Regions from separate parts of the Homo sapiens genome. Here regions 2 and 3 are each reported to be linked to region 1. The links are microRNA targets in miRTarBase. Many come from high-throughput screens and were not tested one by one. Region 1 holds a microRNA gene; each other region holds the end of a gene's coding sequence.
Evidence for each region. Region 1 holds the annotated microRNA hsa-miR-596 (AAGCCUGCCCGGCUCCUCGGG, at 2,803-2,823, shown strand). A microRNA usually pairs through its seed, bases 2 to 8, with sites in the 3' UTR of a target mRNA and lowers its output. Matches are read on the target gene's strand: a 7mer-m8 pairs with bases 2 to 8, a 7mer-A1 pairs with bases 2 to 7 and ends in A, and an 8mer does both.

Region 2: the mRNA of CFAP77 is a reported target of hsa-miR-596. Seed matches in the 3' UTR shown: 7mer-m8 at 5,375-5,381 and 7mer-A1 at 5,300-5,306.
Region 3: the mRNA of RAB19 is a reported target of hsa-miR-596. Seed matches in the 3' UTR shown: 7mer-A1 at 4,329-4,335.

What each region holds. Positions count from the first base shown.
Region 1 is chr8:1,814,444-1,821,709 of GRCh38, forward strand. It overlaps MIR596 (microRNA 596), which reads left to right and starts at 2,788; the gene lies at 2,788-2,864. RefSeq lists enhancers at 1-239, 240-739, 1,419-2,087, 2,088-2,755.
Region 2 is chr9:132,570,878-132,578,143 of GRCh38, reverse strand. It overlaps CFAP77 (cilia and flagella associated protein 77), which reads right to left. Exons shown (of 6, transcript NM_001282957.2): 6 at 4,825-5,756. The coding sequence ends at 5,634. Among named protein-coding and RNA genes, the nearest start is that of BARHL1, 8.1 kb to the left of the region's middle. RefSeq lists a silencer at 2,835-2,904.
Region 3 is chr7:140,425,734-140,430,733 of GRCh38, reverse strand. It overlaps RAB19 (RAB19, member RAS oncogene family), which reads right to left. Exons shown (of 4, transcript NM_001008749.3): 4 at 2,760-4,852. The coding sequence ends at 4,584. Among named protein-coding and RNA genes, the nearest start is that of RAB19, 24 kb to the right of the region's middle.

The DNA of each region.
Region 1 (7,266 bases):
TTACCTTTCCTCTCCTCTGCCCCTCTTTTGCCTTTGGCCTGCCCTCCATCAAACGGGGGATGGATGGAGCGGGCATGGGAATCAGACATGTTTCAGGCAAGCCACCTACAGGGCCCGTCTTGGGAAGGCCGGCTGTCCGTGCTGGCTGCTCTTCGGACACAGGCATCGTATAATTTCCCTCTTTTCACTCCTTCCTTAATGACCACCTTCTACTTACCAAGGTGCATTTCTATTTTTGTTTTGTTTTGTTTTTGAGAGAGTCTCACTTTGACGCCCAGGCTGGAGGGCAGTGGTGCCATCATAGCTCGCTGTGGCCTCACGCTCTTGGGCCCAAGTGATCCCCCAGCCCCAGCCTCCCAAGTAGCTGGGACCATAGGTGCACGCCACCAGGCTCAGCTATTTTATTTATGTATTAATTTTTTTGTAGAGGCGAGTCTTGCCATGATGGCCAGGTTGGTTCAAGGTGCATTTCTAATTCAGCAGACCAGACTAGTGTGAGTGAACCCCTAGAGACACACTGCAATGCTCGTTTATGTAGCTAGGGACAAGCCTCTGTTTCAGCCAGACCATCCGCTCTAGGCTCTCCAGCCGGGAAGGCAAGACCCCAAGGCCACTGAATGCCCCGTGAGATGTGGGTGTTGGCATCTATGCTGGGAGCCCTCGCTGTGTGGACTGGACTATCTCTTAGCTTGGGATGAGAGGAGGACCATGCTCACGTAGGGAAGCCGAGTGTGCCGAGTGTGTGTTCTGTCTGCCCCTCCACTTTCCCTTCTTCTGCAATCCGTTTTCCTGGTGACATCTACCCACTGTTTTCTCCCACCGAAATGTCCGCAGTGTGTTCCTCAGCCTGTTTGTGTTGCTAGAAAGGAACACCTGAGGTTAGGTAATTTATAAAGAAAAGAGGTTTATTTGGCCCCTTTTTGTACTAGAAGCATGGCGCCAGCACCTGCACCTGGGGAGGGGCTCAGGCTGCTTCCACTCACGGTGGAAGGGGAAGAGGAGCCGGCACGCGGAGAGATCAGAGAGAGAAAGTGGCAGGAGGCGGCCAGGCGCGGTGGCTCATGCCTGTAATCCCAGCACTTTGGGAGGCCTAGACAGGAGGATCACCCGAGGTCAGGAGTTTGAGATGAGCCTGGGCAACATGGCACGACCTCATTACTACTAAACATACACAAATTAGCCAGGTGTGGTGGTAAATGCCTGTAATCCCAGCTACTTGGGAGGTTGAGGCAGGAGAATTGCTTGAACACAGAGGTGGAGGTTGCAGTGAGCTCAGATCGTGCCACTGTACTACAGCCTGGGCGACAGAGCAAGACACCAAGACTCCGTCGAAAGAAACAGAAAGGAAGGAAGGAAGGAGAGAGTGAGAGAAAGAGAAAGAAAAGAAAGAAGGAAAGAAAGAAAGAAAGAAAGAAAGAAAGAAAGAAAGAAAGAAAGAAAGAAAGAAAGAAGGGAGGGAGGGAGGGAGGGAGGGAGGGAGGGAGGGAGGAAGGAAGGAAAGAAAGAAAAGAAAGGAAGCATGGGGGAGGTGCCAGGCTCTTTTTAGCATCCAGCTTTCACAGAACTAATACAGCAAGAAGTCACTCACAGCCCCTCCATTAATCTATTCACGAGGGACCCACCCCCATAACGCAGACACTTCCAACCAGGAGGCACCTCCAACACGGGATACAATTTCAACATGAGATTTGGAGCGGACACACATGCAGGCCATGGCGGCGTTCTAACGAGATGGGGTGCAGCGTTCTAACCAGACGGGGTGCAGCGTTCTAACGAGACGGGGTGCAGCGTTCTAACGAGACGGGGTGCAGCGTTCTAACCAGATGGGGTGCAGCGTTCTAACGAGATGGGGTGCAGCGTTCTAACCAGATGGGGTGCAGCGTTCTAACGAGATGGGGTGCAGCGTTCTAACGAGATGGGGTGCAGCGTTCTAACCAGATGGGGTGCAGCGTTCTAACGAGATGGGGTGCAGCGTTCTAACCAGATGGGGTGCAGCGTTCTAACGAGACGGGGTGCAGCTTTCTAACGAAATGGGGTGCAGCGTTCTAACGAGACGGGGTGCAGCGTTCTAACGAGACGGGTGCAGCGTTCTAACGAGATGGGGTGCAGCGTTCTAACGAGACGGGGTGCAGCGTTCTAACGAGACGGGGTGCAGCGTTCTAACGAGACGGGGTGCAGCGTTCTAACGAGATGGGGTGCAGCGTTCTAACGAGACGGGGTGCAGCGTCCGTTTGGGAAGGCGGAAGAAGCCTGTGAGGTCCAAGAGGGCGGATGGAGAAAGTTCCCCAGCAGGAACTCCCCGCTAGGGAAGCTTTAGAATTTGCCCGGGAGAGCGGGGGGGTGCTGCGGTGGTCAGTGTGGAGCATTTGACCGGTGGAGGCCCGGGATGCACCGTCCTGCCGCCCACGCACTCGCGGCAGAGCCCAGGGCGGCCTGCGCAGCTTGCATAGGGCCCACGGGACGCCGCCCACGGGGAAAGCCGTCTGTAACCATCCGAGCCTAGATACTCCCTGTTTACCTGCAGACACACCCACCGCACGGCCCAGGAATACGGCCACTGCGGAAGTCAAGAGGAGACTGCTGCGTTCCCTTTGAAACAGCCCAGGGCGGCTCATCAAGGCTGCAGAAAACATTACAGCCCCACAGGCAGGGCTGCTCCGGCCTTCGTTTAGCAGCTTGATTGAGGCGTCATTGGCACACGGCGAACTGCGCGTCATTAACGTGGGCGGTTCAGTGAGTTCTGAGGAACGCATAGCAGGTGGATCCGTCGCCACAGTCGGGAAAGCGAGCACGGCCTCTCCGAAGCCTGCCCGGCTCCTCGGGAACCTGCCTCCCGCATGGCAGCTGCTGCCCTTCGGAGGCCGACCCGACCCATCCCTGGGTGCTGTCTAGGTCACTGTCCTTGTGTGTTTTTGTTTTACTTTAGAACTCTTATAAAGACACAAACCGATGAGTAGAGACAAACTCACACTAGGAAATGGACTGGGTGTGGTTTGCAAAGCGGGGAGCGCGGTCTGTGTCCGGAACCCTCTGAGCTCAGGCAGCGTCCTGGGCTGTTTCCTGGGGCAGCGGCCACAGCCGTCCTATCTGCAGAGCATCCTGCTTTCCTGGAGGGCATCTGCGATGGCCCCCAGGCTGTACTGTTCCCTGTAAGTCCCGAGCCCCCTGTGGGGACAGGCGCTGGGAGGGGTGTGGCCTGCTGGGGGCTCTCGGATGTGTTGCCCCAGGGAGCCCGGCCGGGTGATGCCTCGGGGTGACTGGGGACGGCAGGAGGGAGGGGAAGGCAGGGCGCGGAGCAGTGAGGTCGGCAGCTTCTTCCCAGCGCTCGTCGACACTCCAGCCTCTTCAGCCACGTCTGGGGTTGCGTGAGCCCAGACAGAACTCATGGCTCGAGGCTGGGAGGCTGAGAGGCCTGAAGGGGGCCTCTGATTTCCATGTACCCCCTGCACCCCATGTTCGTGTGGCCTCCGCACTTGCCCAGGGCCTCTGCCGTGTGACAGCCCCACCCCAGCCCCACGCTGCCCCAGGGTCTCCCTGGAGCGCCGTCTGTCCTCTGCCAGGCTGTACCTGGGTCCCGTGACTGAGCGGCACTGGGTGGAGACTCACTTCCTGGCTCTTCTCCCATCGCAGCACCTGAGCAGCCCCGTGACTGCGGCCTGAGGTCTGCCCCACGTGCGCTGTGGGCCAGGCAGAGCGCCAGGTGCACCCAGGATGCCTTCATCTTCACCGCCGCTCCAGAGCCAGGGACTGGTGACTAACCCTGTATCCACGAGATAGCAGGCTCAGTACGGTCAGGGACTTGTCTGAGGTCTCACATCCAGGGTTGTTCGCCGTCCCCGGGCTCAGTGTCTCGCTCCCCGCCTGCGGAGTGGAGTAGTTCTGAGATGTGTGCATGCCATCTCCCTTTCAATGGCGCCATCCTACAAGTGGCCTCAGCCAAGGTTCAGCCAGTAGGAGGCAGACCTGGAGAGATTTAGAGCCTGGATCCGGCACCACGATGGGGGCCTGGGAGCGAGGTCCAGGCAGGCAGGCCGTGGGAAGGGCAGGCTGGACCTGGGGCAGAGCTGAAGCTACCGCCCACAGCGGAATTTCTTCTCTGGAAAGCCTTTCCAGTGCTGAATCGGGCCCACCCGGATTGTCTAACATAGTCTTCCTCATTTAAAGTCCACTGTGATGGGTCTTTTGCACACCAACAGAACACCTCCACAGCCACATCTGGACCCATGTTGAATGAATTACCGGGGACTGTCACCTGGTCAAGGTGACATATAAAACTGACCCGCACAGTAGGTGCGAATGTCTTTCCAATTCTTTGCAGGAAACTGAGGCACAGCAATGCAGATAGCACAGCTGGTAAGGGAAGTGCCTGGGATGTGAACCCAGGAACTGTGCCCAGGAGTGGATACAAGCTTCCATCTTCGGACAGTGCCTCAGGCTCCCCCGAGATGTCCATGGGGTCAGGTGCCCTGACACCGGTCTCTGCACATGAAAGTGTTGAGTCTTCATGCTGCCTAAGTAGGTTTTGCTCTTGTTTTCAGTGAGGAGACTGAGGCCCAGGACATTGAATGACGCCCATGTTCATCCATATAGTGGTAAAAGAGGCAGAAGCCCCCGGGCCTATTTGATGATAGAGCCCAGGCCTTTAGGCCCTGCTAGAGCTGACCTCACGCACCCGCTCCGCGTGGGGCATGGAGACGTCTCTGGAGTAGAGGCGAGGCCTAGAACCAGGCAGGCTGTCTTTGCCATTTTTTTCCTTTCTGAATGTCCTAACTAGGGTATAGATTATCCCTACCCTCTGCATGGGCCTTGCACTTAATTTGCTTGCAATTAATTAAGGGATATTTTGTATTCCGTCAATAAAGGGAATCATTATTTTTTTAAAGGAACCCAGCTTTTAAAACCCCTTTTTGCTGATACATAACTTAATTTGTTCCTGCTACTGTAACAAAACACCAGAGACTGGGTCATTTATAGACAACAGGAGTTTATTTCTCACAGTTCTGGACGTGGGGAAGTCCAAGATCAACGTGCCAACAGGTTCAGTGTCTGGGGAGAGCCTGGTCTCTGCTCACAAGACAGCACCTTGAGCACTGTGCCCTCACTGGTAGGAGGGGTGAACAGCCCCCTGGCACTTCTACAAGGGCACTAAGCCCATCCCTCATGACCCACTAACCTCCTCAAGGCCCCACCTCTTACTGCTATCACGTTGGTGATGAACTTTCAGTCATCAAGGGGGATGCATTGAGGCCACTGTATATATCCCATGAAGTAGCTTACTCTTGTGTTCGGCTTGATTCTATTTACAAAGTGAACACACCCATGTGTCTGCAAATCAAATCAAGATGTAGTCACCGTTTTCATCACTCCCCAGAATTCCTTTGTCTTTTCTGAGACAATACCCCCAAAAATAACCACTGTTCTGATTCCTATTATTATAGGTTGGTTTGGCACATTCTTGAATTTCATAAAAATTGAATCATACTATATGTGCCCTTTTGTCTATGTTTTTCATGTTTTCAAGATTCATTGTTATTGAACATATCAGTTTCTTCCTTTTTATTACTGTATTATTAGTATTCTATTATTCTATGAAGATACAATACTTTATGAGTTCACCTGTTGATGGAATTTGGGTTGTTTCCAGTTGCGAAGTATTTGAACTGTTTTGAAGAAAGAATTCTTGTAAAAATCATTTTTTTTTTTTGAGACAGGGTCTTGCTCTGTCCACCCAGGCTAGAGTGCAGTGGTGGTGAACATGACTCATTACAGCCTTGACCTCCCAGCCTCAAGCGATCCTCCCACTTCAGCTTCCTAAGTAGCTGGGACTGGAGGTGGAGACTATCATGCTAGACTCCTGGGCTCAAGCAATCCTCCACCTTGGCCTCCTAAAGTGCTGGGGTTACAGGTGGGAGTCACCATGTCTGGCTGTAAAAGTCTTTTAAGGGACTTATGTTTTCACTTGCCTTGGGCAAACCTAAAAGTGGGATTGCTGAGAAATGGGCAAACAATTAATCAGAGTGGTTGCGCCATTTGCACTCTCATCGCCTTGTATAGTGGTTCCAGGGGCTCCACATTTTTACCCTTGCCATGTCGGTCTGCAGTTTCAGCCGTGCTTGGATGACGGTGGTGGCATCTCATTGTGAGTTTACTTTGGGTAACACTGAGCACTATTTCCTGTTCTTGTTGGCTATCAGTACATCTTTGGTGAAGTATTTACGTCTTTTGTTTATTTTTAAATAGACTTGTTATTGTTATTTACAGGCTTGTTATTGTTATATTGTTTTGTCCCTTTTGAAATAGACTTGTCTTGTTATTGTTCATTTGCAGGAGTTCTCTATTTACCAGGACTATGGTTTGAACGCGTTTTCCCCAAAGTTTATGTGTTGGAAACTTGACCCCCAATGCAGCAGTGTTGGAAGGTGCCTACTAGGTGGTGTCTGGGTCATGGGGGTATGACCCTCATGGATGGATAAATGCCATGACTGAGGCGGTGGGCTCCTTATAAAAGAATGAGTTTGGGTGAAACCTCGTCTCTACTAAAAATACAAAAATTAGCTGGGTGTGGTGGCACATACCTGTAATCCCAGCTACTCGGGAGGCTGAGGCAGAATAGCTTGAACCAGGGAGTCGGAGGTTGCAGTGAGCAGAGATCGCACCACTGCACTCCAGCCTGATGACAGAGCAAGACTCCGTCTCAAAAAAAAAAAAAAAAAAGATAAGTTTGGCCCATTTTGCATCCTCCCTCCCCACCTCCGCCTCCCACCTTCCGTCATGGGATGATGCAGCCCGAAGGTTCTTGCCAGATGTGGCTCCTTGATCTTGAACTTCCCAGCCTCCAGAACTGTGAGAAATAAATTTCTTTTCATTGTAAATCACCCATTCCCAGGTATTCTGTTACAGCAGCACAACGTGGATTAAGACAAGCCATTTGTGGGATATATGCATTGCCCCTGTGTTCTCCCAGTCTGTGGCTTGCCTTTTCATTTTCTTAATGATGTCATGAGATGAGTAGAAATATTAAATTTTGATAAGCCATTTAATCATTTTTAAATGGTCGGTCCATTTTCTGTCTTACCTGAAGATCCGTAAGATCTTTTCTTATATTTTATCCTAGCAACTTTATAATTTTTACACTTAAGTCTATGATCCATCTGAAATTCCTAAATTCTATTTTAATCCTAATAGTTTATTTGTAGATAATTTTGTTTTTTAACATATATAATCATATTGACTGTAAATAATCAGTTTTTCCTCCCTCAATCCTTA
Region 2 (7,266 bases), not on the chromosome of region 1:
CCTCTTAGATTTTGCCCCTTACGCGAGTGCCTCTCCCGTCTCATCCTAGTCCAGGATGCACTCTGTGACCTTCAGCAAATCGCCGTCTTTCTTTTTTTAAAGCAGGTCACTTTCTGAGCTGTTTTTTCTTCCAGCTGTAAGGTGGGGATATTGTTGCCCTCTTCACGTGGTTCGTGTGAGGAATCTTGGCACTTGGCTGCAGGCTCGAAGAATAGCAATTATGTAATTCATAGTACAACTGCTGTTAATAATACCTAGAGCCTTTTTCCTCTGGCAGGTTTGAGTCCTCAGGCTTGTCTCCTCAGCCCTCTCTAGAAAAGTCAGCACCCACCTTTACCCAGGGTCTTCCTACCAAAACCAGTTTTTAAGGCAAAGTGAGCAGAGGATTCGAATGATACAGGCCAGGCCTGGGTGTCATCTCTCTGCTCTGCAAACAGTGGAGTTGGACAAGGATTTGGGCAATTTGTGGGCTTCAAGGTCATGCTGTTCTTATGTGTTTTTTTTTTGTTTGTTTGTTTTGTTTTAGCTTAAAACCTCATAGAGCTCCTGAAACCAGGAAAAGAACATATTTTTTCTTTTCCTCTTTTCATCCTTCCCTCTCTTCCTACCTCCCTCCCTTCCTTTCTCCTCTCCTCCCTCCCTTCCTTCCTGTCTTCCTCCCCTCTTCCCTTTCTCCCTTCCTTCCCATTGGCTCCTCCTCCCTCCCTTCCTGCCCCTTCCCTCCCTTTCTTCCTTCCTCTCTTCCTCTCTCTTCTTCCTCTCACCCTCCTTTTCTTCCTGTTTCCCTCCCCACTCACTCCCTCCCTGTTTCTTCTTTCCTTCTTCCCTCCCTTCCTTTTTTTCTCCCTCCATTCTTTCCTTCTTCCTTCCCTTCCTCTCTCCATCCCTCCCCTCCCCTTCCCTCCTTCCTTCCTTCCTCCCTTCCTTCCTAGCATACCCTCCATCCTGTGCATCATGCCAGATACTGGTGAGTCATGGAGAGTGGGACAGAGCTGATCCACTTGAATGGAGCCCACAGAATGCATTGGTGCCCATGGATCTAAATCCCCTTCATAGATAATCTCCCATTGTACATTCAAGTTTATAAGTTACCTGCATTCAATTCTAGGAACCTGCATAAAAAGCCAACCTAGTTTTATTTTTCCTTAGTGATGATTTTAAGCATCAAAGGGTTTCCCAAGTAAAAATGAGTACAGCAAAAAGAATGATTGGGTTCATACGGATAAATGCAAGCGAAGGTGCTTGGTTGGAGACACAGACCTGTCTGGCTGCCATTGGGGGCACACCTCAGCACCTAGGCTGGGATCAGCTTGCTGCAGAGACGTGCCTTCCCTGGACTTCTAAATCTGTGGTTTAGTTGGGGCACTGGGATAGATGAATTAAAAGCCAAACCAACTCTGTGTGGATCCAGGGACCTCCCTGGGGACTAGAATTGGGTCTGTGGCCTATGAGCAGTGCTTCCAGGAGCCCCCTGCTAGGCAGGCAGCAGACATGGCTGGCCTTATGGTAGCTCATGGCTACCATTCCTCCACAACAGTGAGACTCCAGAACCACCTTCTCTCTTCTGACCAAGGAAATTGTTAATTAATTATATGGTTATATCTTAGAGAGAGAGACAGAATTAATGAAGTTTGGGCTCTAAAAATCTGGCCATGGACTGAAGCCAGTGGGGGTCAGTGTGGGAGGAGAGCTGGACCTTTCATCCGGGAAGTCTGTCCTGCCACTGTATGGATGCTAAGTAGCTCTACCACCCTTTATCTTCTCCTGGATGTTCCAAGGGGGACCTCCTGGCCCTGTCTGCAGTCCCTTGCTGGGAAGTAGATCACTTCCCTCCTGCCCAGTGGCAGCCACCATAGAAGTCAAGAGCTGAACCTCAACAGCACCAGAACCAGAGTTCAAGAACAAATCAGAAAAAAAAAAATGCAAGGGAGACAGATCCAAGGAGTGGGAGCCTCTTCAGTTAAGATTTTGTGCAATCGGTATCTCAGCCTGCCCTTTCTTCTCAAGAAATGGTGGTGGGTGAAGACTCAGCCTCGTCTCCAGGTGTCCTTAAGCCTGTCCATCTTCATGAGTCCTCTTCCCAACGGCTCCATCTCCACGCTCTGGCACCCAGTCCTGCACTTGCCCCGTCCACCTTGCCAGGTGCACATAAGTGTGGTGCTGCCTCCCTCTTACCTTGGAGGGGACTTCAGAGAATTTCAAGCAGGCCAGGTGAGGGCCCAGACCAGCTGCCTCCCTAGGCCTGTGGAAACAGTGCCTGTGGACCTCTTTGGTTAAACCTCCTATGAGGTGTTGCCAAGAAGGTCAACCAGGAGGTAGAATGTTCCTAACTGCCAACCAGTGAGGAAATTAGCCAAAACGGAGGCACAAAGTCATACCTCCAACGACACTCACGCTCACCCGGCATTTGTTGGTGCGTGACTGGGAGGACTTGGGATGGAAAGCTAGGCTATCCCCATTTCCATCCATCTTTCATTGGGAAGGGGTTTTGGGGGGCAGGCTCTGGAACGTGTCGTGGACGTCACTGGCCTGGGAGAGTTCACTGCCCTGGCTTCGTGAGTGGACTCAGGATTCCTTTCACGTCCACTTTCCACCTATGAAGTTGAGGAAATGGCAGTGGAGGGAGACGAACAAGATGATCCCCAAGGCCCTTCCAGGCTGGACGCTGTGGGGACTCTATCCAGGTCATAAAGGGCAGGTAGTTGCCCCAGCCAGGGTCAGCTCAGGTGAGGACAGGGGTTTGGCCGAGGTGACAGGATACCCAAGAAAGTAGAATCAGGCCAGAATCAGACTCGGGGCTTTGTGCAGTCACAGATAATCAATGAGGCGGGAAGAACCAGGCTTGGTGGGGGAAGGACGCCAGGAGAGAGGGAAGGGCCGGGAATCTCCGCCGCCTCTGACTCAGACTCGCCAGCAGGTGGCACTGTAGGACAAGGAGCTGAGGGTCTCTCCAGTGAGCACTGCTTCCGGCCTGGGCTGGGAGCACCCGGAGGACTCCAGAGAGCACCCAGAGTGATGCTTCCAGGGCATCTGCCACAGCCCTAGCGGGTCCCACAGCAAATGGGGCAAGGAGTGATTGGAGAAACAAAAGAGATTTCCTAGCTGAGCCTGTCCTGCCTGCCTCGGCCCAGGTCCTGGGGAAAAGCAGGCCTGGGAGGGCATCTCTGTTGCCACAGTGGGGCCAATTTTGGGTTCTTCAGGAAACTCTTCTGCCTCCTGATGTGCCCCCTCCCCTTTCCGTAGGGGATTTCAGAGCGAAAGAGTGGGCTCGATTCAAAATATCCTTCAGCTTCTGGATGTATCTGGATGAAAGCCCTCCGTCCTCGTGAGCGTCCTGGCCTGCCCAGTCCCTCAGTCACTCACAGGGCTCTGGTTGATGCCTCTGCAGTGTGAGTCAGTGATAAGAAAAAAATAATAATTCATATTAATCTATTGCTTAAAAGTGCCAGTTGCTGTACTAATCATGTCATGCACATTCTTTAATGTAATGGTCACCTGATTTAGCTTGAAGACACAGTCTGTGATGCGTGGGGTCCTGTCTCTGAGATGAGGCATAGAGAGGATAGGACTGTTGCTCAAGATCACACAGAAATTGCTGGGCAGAGCTGTGCTTCGCACTCTTTTGCGGTATGGCGTGCTACCGCCTGCTCAGGGCCAGCCCACTCAGACTCTGCCTGCTTGGGAGATTGGAGGGATGAAGGAAAATGAGTATTGAAGACTTTTGGCTTCCACAGCTGGGTAGATGGTGGTCTTACTTATGAGATGGGAAAGACGGAGGGAGAAGTAAGTTTGGCAGAAAAAAAGTCAAGTGTCTGCCTTGGCTATGGTGGTTAACAATGAATGCCAGACACCCAAGGGGAGATGCTGAGTGGGCAGTTGGATAAATGAGTCTGGGGGCTGGGCGTGGTGGCTCATGCCTGTTATTCAAGCACTTTGGGAGGCTGAGGCGGGTGGATCACCTGAAGTCAGGAGTTTGAGACCAGCCTGCCCAACACGGTGAAACCCCATCTCTACTAAAAATACAAAAATTAGCTGGGCATGGTGGCATGCGCCTGTAATCCCAGCACTTCGGGAGGCTGAGGTGGGTGGATCACAAGGTCAGGAGATCGAGACCATCCTGGCTAACATGGTGAAACCCCGTCTCTGCTAAAAATATTTTTTAAAAATTAGCCGGGCGTTGTGGCGGGCACCTGTAGTCCCAGCTACTCAGGAGGCTGAGGCAGGAGAATGGTGTGAACCCAGGAGGTGGAGCTTGCAGTGAGCCGAGATTGCACCACTGCACTCCAGCCTGGGCGGCAGAGCAAGACTCTGTTTAAAAAAAAAAAAAAAAAGAAAGAAATCCTTGGCTGGGCGCGGTGGCTCATGCCTGTAATCCCAGCACTTTGGGAAGCCGAGGGGGGCAGATCATGAGGTCAAGAGATCAAGACCATCCTGGCCAACATGGTGAAACCCCATCTCTACTAAAAATACAAAAATTAGCTGGGTGTGGTGGTGCGCACCTGTAGTCCCAGCAACTCGGGAGGCTGAGGCAGGAGAATCGCTTGAACCCAGGAGGCAGAGGTTGCAGTGAGTTGAGATTGCGCCCCTGCACTCCAGCCTGGCAACAGAGTGAGACTCTGTCTCAAAAACAAACAAGCAAACAAACAAAAAAAACCCTTAGATTAGAAATGATATTTAAAACTTGAAAATTTGCCTCCCTCAAAAAAGGTGTGGCTGGAATGTTTTGGAGGTTAGCTTACCTTGAGAGGTCTCTATGTGGCAGCACCCTCATTTGATGTCTCTAAGGCTGATTTGCTCACTGGTTTTCAAATGGAGACACAAAAGGAGGATGACAAATAGCATTTTTAATTTAAAATAGATCAGCATAAAATTTTCAGAGAGAATCCAAAGAACACACGGAAAGACCGAGTGAGGAAGTGTCCAGGAATTCGGCTGAGAAGCTCAGCAGCCTGTGTTCAGCAGTCTACCCGCTGGCCTGGAAGGCTTTTTCCAGAGTGGGTTGACCTTCCAAAGTCAGTCCTGGGGGAGGAGTCCAACTTGGCCTGCTTGATTGACGGGGCCCCAGCACTGAGGAGGCGGGGGCAGGCTCGAGTAATGAACCATTGGCTCTTCCTGCTGTCAGAGGTCCCAGAGAGATAATACTGCCGTGATGAGACATCAGGCATCCCAAAAAGAGCAATTAAAACTCATGTTTGGAATAGAAAATGAGGGCTTTCAAAGCACGTCACTGTCATGCTTTCTGCAGCAAATACACAGGTCGTTCTTAACACTTAATGGGCAGAGCCATGGAATCGACCCTTAGCCTGGAGTCTAAAAAATTGTCTTGTAATTTGGGCTTGTCTTGGCAGGTGAGGGCTTGAGAAGAGGCAGGGTGAGCCTGCCCTAGGAGGAGAAGGAGGAGGAGAGGAGGAGGCTCCAGGTAGAGGGTCACTGGGGCTAAGTGGAGACTAATGTTGGCTAACCTAAAAGGGGGGACTTTTACCAAAAACAATTAGCCTAAGACTTGAATCTGAGCTCCTTGAAGCAGAACCTGCATAAAAATGGGGGAATGTCAGGGTTGGGGCAAGATAGGGAGTCCTTCTGGGAATTTTCCACTATGTCAAGATGGCTTCTTGTGGCAGGGGAGGGAGGGGCTAGGGGTGGGTGTAGTTGCCCATCCGCAGGGTCCCCTGGCGCACGGCACACTCTTCCCGGTGGGCTTTTAATGCTCTCTGGCGATCGGCCTCCGTGGGGAACGTATCAAGGTGGCGGCCCACCTGTGGATAGAAGGGAAGAGTGGGTGGGTGAGGGGAGACTTCAGTGTAGCTCATTCCAGTTGCTCCCCTCGCCTGCCCCCTGCTTCAATCTTAGAATAATGATAAAAATAGCTGTAAGAGGGAGGAAGTCACAGCAAGTGCTGTGAGCCTCCTGGTGCTGAGCCACGAGGCAGAGAGCAGGGGCTACCTGGGGGAACTGTTCGTCCTTCTGTCCAGCTCCTTGCTGGGGAAGATACAGGCAGAACAAAAATCACCAGGCCATGACCAGACGACCACGCAATGGGACCTAGTAGCCAGTGTCCTTCATGCACTACTTTTCCACCATTAAAAACCCCAAACAAGCCACCCTCTCCAAGGGGGACCTCCTGACCCTGTCTGCACTCCCTTGCTGGGAATTAGATCACTTCCCTCCTCTCTGGTGGCAGCCACCACAGGAGTCAAGAGCTGAACTTCAATATCACCAGAACCAGAGCTCAAGAATAAATCAGAAAAAAAAAAAAAAAATGCAAGGGAGACAGATTCAAAGAGTGGGAGCCTCTTCAGTTAAGATTTTGTGCAATCGGTATCTCAGCCTGCCCTTTCTTCTCAAGAAATGGTGGTGGGTGAAGACCCCGCCTCGCCTCCTGGTGTCCACTGTGTCTGTTACATCACCTCCAAGTGCTACAAAATCCATCCCATTAACAGCACAACATCCTCCTGCCTCAGCATTTCTCCTTTGGGATAACCTAAGGGCGGCACAGGGTGGAAAGGGTTTGGGCTCACGTGCTCATTCCTGCATCTGGGCTTCTATCCATCTGTTAATTCGTGAAATGCATGTTTATTGAACACAACTCTGTGTCAGATGTGGGGGATATGGCAGTAAACCAGAGAGACTCGGCTCTACCCTCGTGGAGCTTTTATTCTAGAGGGAGAGCAGACATCCAGCAGTAACTACACAGCTATTTCATTACAATGGACAGAAGGCTGGGGAGTGCGCAGTGAGAACAAATTGGGTGGGTCCTGGGGAAGAGATGCATACAGGGGGTCTCGAAGGATGGGTTGGGATTCCAGGGCAAAGGGGGGTAGCGTGGCTGCTGGCCCTGGGGTCCAAGAGAGCTCAACTTTGTGAGGGGATGCGGCGGCCAGGTAGAGGGTGGGCAGGGCAGGTCCTGTTTGGATTTGCAGGAGCAGCCAAAGGCTCTGCAGTGGGTTCAGGATAAAGCAGGACCCATGCCTAGGACAGCCACAGGGTGCTTGTCGAGAATCCAGGCCAGGGTTGACCACCCCGGAGTGGTTAGCTAAGCCCACGGCGCTGCAGGTTAGGGTGAAGAAAGGTGACAGAAGAAGAAAAATGTGGGGAGAGAGGATGAAATATTAAAAGGGGGTAGAGGGAAGATAAGGAGGGGCTTGTAGGGAAAGTCTCTGTGCTCGGGGCCACGTGGAATCCCCCTCGGACTGTGTTTATCATTTCACAGACGAGGGAACAGAGGCCTAGGGCAGAGTGTGGTTCAGGGCTGCCCCCATAGGGAAT
Region 3 (5,000 bases), not on the chromosome of region 1:
GTGCAAATTCTTATTTGTTTATTTATTTATTTATTTTTGAGACGGAGTCTCACTCTGTCACCCAGGCTGGAGTGCAGTGGCACCATCTCGGCTCACTGCAACCTCTGCCTCCCAGGTTCAAGTGATTCTCTTGCCTCAGCCTCCTGAGTAGCTGGGATTACAGGCATACGCCAACACACCCGGCGAATTTTTGTATTTTTGGTAGAGATGGGGTTTCACCATGTTGGCCAGGCTGGTCTCAAACTCTTGACCTCAGGTAACCCGGCCTAATGCAAATTCTTAACTGGACTGTGGAAGCCAGGGTTTGGCAGCTGGTCTCAGAGCTTGCCCTTTGTGAACAAAGTGAGGAGAGGAGGGTTCTGTGAGGAAGGGCAGACACTCCAGCAAAAATGAGGGACTCACATGACTCCTCTGGGGTGCAGCTTGTTTAGGGGAGCTGCTCAGGCAGCTGGTGTCTTTGTGTGGAGCTCTCTCCTCCCAAAGCCAGCCTTAGAGCCCTCCCTCCACCCGGCACCAAGCAGCCATCTCCATCCCTTCAACACCTGTCTGGGAGGCCTGGAGTGGAGGATACTTGTGAATAGAAAAACAATCTCCCAGTGGGGATGTCCCACACCAGGACGATGGCTGTCCCAGCGGTGATCTTAGGGGTTCCCAGAAGGCCACCTTCTCTCTAGATGCCTTTCTTTTCCTGTGATCCTGCGAGCTGAAGTCCTGGCTACAGTTCCAACCTTACAGCTTTATCTCTAGGTTTGTGTGTTTGATTCCCATCAAAATACGGATGTGTCAGGGAACACTAGTACTCCAGGCTGCCATTGGTCTCTGACCTGAGATCTCCTCCTGGGGGTGAAGGAGGAGGGGAAAGAGGGCGAGGTTTGCTTTCAGGGGAGGCTGCGTGGCTGCTCCTCAGAACAGGAGAGGGCTAGCCCCCACAGGAGGCTCGGCAGGCTGTTCATCTTGATCGGTGCCCGCCCTGAGTCGGCTCTGGGACACACACTGAACAGATTGATGGATCCATTCCTCAAGAATAGACTAATCAACAAAGAATGAAAACTCTGTCGCAAGACAAGAAATTTCTAAAAGGCACCTTAACTGAGAAAAATTAAGAGTGCTTCCTGATGATGGTGGAGAACCGGGAGGAGGCTTGTGCTTCGTAGGTCTCCTAGCTTTGCTCTTCTTCTCTGTGGTTGGCTTAGTTTATGGATATATTCCGAAGGTCAGAATTTAAATTCTGGCTCCTACCTAAGGACTCCTTGCAGACCAAGAAATGTATAAAGGAGCAGGAGAATAACTTAAGGCCAAGGAGAAGACCAGTCCAGGGAAAGAGCCCTAAAGACTGCCTTCCTCTCACTGAAAGGCAGATAGGCTGTGATTGGGGCCCTGATACCCAGATGCTAAGAGTGGAGCAGGGGGCTGGGCGCGGTGGCTCACACCTGTAATCCCAGCACTTTGGGAGGCCGAGGCGGGCGGATCACCTGAGGTCGGGAGTTCGGGACCAGCCTGACCAACATGGAGAAACCCTGTCTCTACTAAAAATACAAAATTGGCCAGGCGTGTTGGCACATGCCTGTAATCCCAGCTACTCAGGAGACTGAGGCAGGAGAATCGCTTGAACCCAGGAGGTGGAGGTTGTGGTGAGCCACGATCGCACCATTGCACTCCAGCCTGGGCAACAAGAACGAAACTCTGTCTCAAAAAAAAAAAAAGGGCTGGGCACGGTGGCTCACGCCTGTAATCCCAGCACTTTGGGAAGCCAAGGGGGGAGGATCACAAAGTCAGGAGATCGAGACCATCCTGGCTAACACGGTGAAACCCCGTCTCTATTAAAAATACAGAAAATTAGCTGGGTGTGGTGGCATGCGCCTGTAGTCCCAGCTACTCAGGAGGCTGAGGCAGGAGAATCGCTTGAACCTGGGAGGTGGAGGTTGCAGTGAGCTGAGATGACACCACTGCACTCTAACTTGGGCAACAGAGTGAGACGCTGCCTCAAAAAAAAAAAAAAAAAATGTGGCGCAGGGAAAGGGGGAACTGAGAGCTACTGCTGGATGAGAGGATGCCAGGAAGTCCAAGGGTGTTAAGAGGAGCAGCAGGCCAGGTGCAGTGGCTCAAGCCTGTAATTCCAGCACTTTGGGAGGCTGAGGCAGGTGGATCACCTGAGGTCAGGAGTTCAAGACCAGCCTGACCAACATGGTGAAACCCTGTCTCTACTAAAAATACAAAAATTATCCAGGTGTGGTGGTATACCCCCGTAATCCCAGCTACTCGGGAGGCTGAGGCAGGAGAATCACTTGAACCTGGGAGGTGGAGGTTGCAGTGAGCCAAGATCACACCATTGCACTCCAGCCTGGGTGACAGAGCGAGACTCCGTCTCAAAAAAAAAGAGGAGCAGCAGAATGCGGCTGGTACCTCTTTTCCCCTCCACTGGCATCACAAACCAAAGGGACCATTTGCTTTCCCCAGACCTCACACAACTTCTGGCCATGAGAAGCAGCTCAGTAAATGTCAGCTGCAATCATAAGTGGTGTTTGTCCTCCGGAAGCCCCAGGTGAGTGTCCACAGTTCCCTGGGACCCTGGAGGGGCTCCGTGGCCTGCTCCTGCTGCCTGCCCTGATGTCCCCTAACACAGTCCTGGAAACGAGGGGTGCCTGGTGACTTCCAGCCTCCTCTTACGTGTTTAGTTCTGAAAGCCGCAGTTACTCCATCCCAGAAGGCACCAGCTGCTCTCTGGCCATATCTTACAGAAGGGGCAGTACAACACTGGCTTGATATTCATCTATGAACCAATTTAATTTTAATTTAAAAATGACTTCTGATCTGGCAGATGATTTGGGTTCTAGAAAGAAATTGTGCCAGGCATGGTGGCTCATGCCTGTAATCCCAGCACTTTGGGAGGCTGAGGTGGGAGAAACCTGTGAGCTCAGGAATTGGAGACCAGCCTGGGCAACGTAGCAAGACTTCATTTCTACAATAATAATAATAAAAAAAGGCCAGGTGCGGTGGTTCACACCTGTAATCCCAGCACTTTGGGAGGCCACGAGACAGGTGGATCATGAGGTCAGGAGTTCGAGACCAGCCTGGCCAACGTGGTGAAACCCTGCCTCTACTAAAAACACAAAAATTAGCTAGGCGTGGTGGCGGGAGGCTGTAATCCCAGCTACTAGGGAGGTTGAGGCAGGAGAATCACTTGAATCTGGAAGGCAGAAGTTGCAGTGAGCCGAGGTCACACCATTGCACTCCAGCCTGGGCAACAAGAGCGAAACTCTGTCTCAAAAAAAAAAAAAAAAGGGCCGGGCATGGTGGCTCATGCCTGTAATCCCAGCACTTTAGGAGGCCGAGACGGGTGGATCATGAGGTCAGGAGTTCAAGACCAGCCTGACCAACGTAGTGAAACCCAGTCTCTACTAAATATACAAAAAAAATGAGCTGGGCGTGGTAGTGAGTGCCAGTAGTCCCAGCTACTTGGGAGGCTGAGGCAGGAGAATTGCTTGAACCCAGGAGGTGGAGGTTGAGGTTGCAGTGAGCCGAGATCATGCCACTGCATTCCAGCCTGAGTGACAGAGTGAGACTCAGTCTCAAAAAAAAAAAAAAAAAAAAAGAACAGGCATGGTGGCTCATGCCTGTAATCCCAGCACTTTGGGAAGCCAAGGTGGGCAGATCACCTGAGCTCAGGAGTTCAAGATCAGCCTGAGCAACATGGTGAAACCTTGTCTCTACAAAAAATACAAAAATTAGCCAGGAGTGGTGGCGTGTGTCTGTAGTCCCAGCCACTTGGGAGACTGAGGTGGGAGAACCTCTTGAACCCAGGAGGTAGAGGTTGCAGTGAGCCAAGATCCCACCACTATACTCCAGCTTGGGTGACAGAGTATGACCCTGTCTCAAAAAAAAAAAAAAAAAAAAGAAAGAAAAAAAATTGCAGGTGTCTTCCCCTATCCCAAGAGGGTGGCCAAGTCAGCCCTGCTAGAATAGAGTGAATTCCAGTTCCATCTCTATCAGACAGTTCCTGACCATTTGGCAAGATGGTACTTCTGGTATTTCTGCTAAAAGGCTTCGCTCCCCAAAGTGAAGACCTGAGGTGTGAATGTCAGGAACAAAATGATAGCAGCATTCTGGTTTCTCATTGCAGGCTTTCGTTCCATTCTCCCTGCCTGAGCTGTTTCAAACTGTTCCAGAATGTTCCAAACAGCCTCTTCTCTCTCTTGCTGTTTTGCCTTCCTCCTTTCCTTCACTACCCTCTTCTTCAAGCAAGAAACAAAATTCAGTAGAAAGCAGCAGAAGCTCTAGGGAGACAGAAAAGTGAAAGGGGAGAAGAGTACACTTCGTCCTCCCTCTCCTAGCCTGAAGTCCTGCCTTCTCCAGGAGTCAAGAGTCAGTGAAAACAATGGTGCTGGTTTTCCTGAGAGTCAGCAGCTATGACCTGTGGTGTGAGTCAAGGGAGAAGTGTGGCCCATCCAGACTGGGAGGATTAGGGGTGAGCGGCAAGTCCACGCTGGGGTCTAAAGCGCCACTGGGGCAACACTACGGTATCCTGGCTACCTTTGGTTTCAGAGGCGGCCTCTTTGGTGGGTGCAACTGGCTTTGCAAACATCTTAGCAAGTGCAGTGGGTCTTTTCACTTGGACCCTGGGCCATAAGAACGGGGCTGGAGTCCAGGGGGAGGCCGTTCAGGGCACTCTCCCCATATAGGTGCAGGCTGTTGCGCGCGATCAGCTCCTTGGCCATGAGCACGAAGACTTCTTCTATGTTCTTTGACTCCTTGGCAGATGTCTCCAAAACGGCCAGGAGGCCGTACTTCTCAGCCAGTGTGCAGGCATCCTCGAACAGGACGTGCCGCTTTTCCCAGAGGTCACATTTATTTCCTGGAAGGAAAAGATAAGCCGATATTCCATTGAGTAACTTAATCTGGTTTCTTTCAAAATGAACTTTACAAGTAACATTTTAGTTCTTCAATAGGCATGCATGCATTCATTCACAAATGGTCATTGAGGGCACATTTTTTTGTTTCTT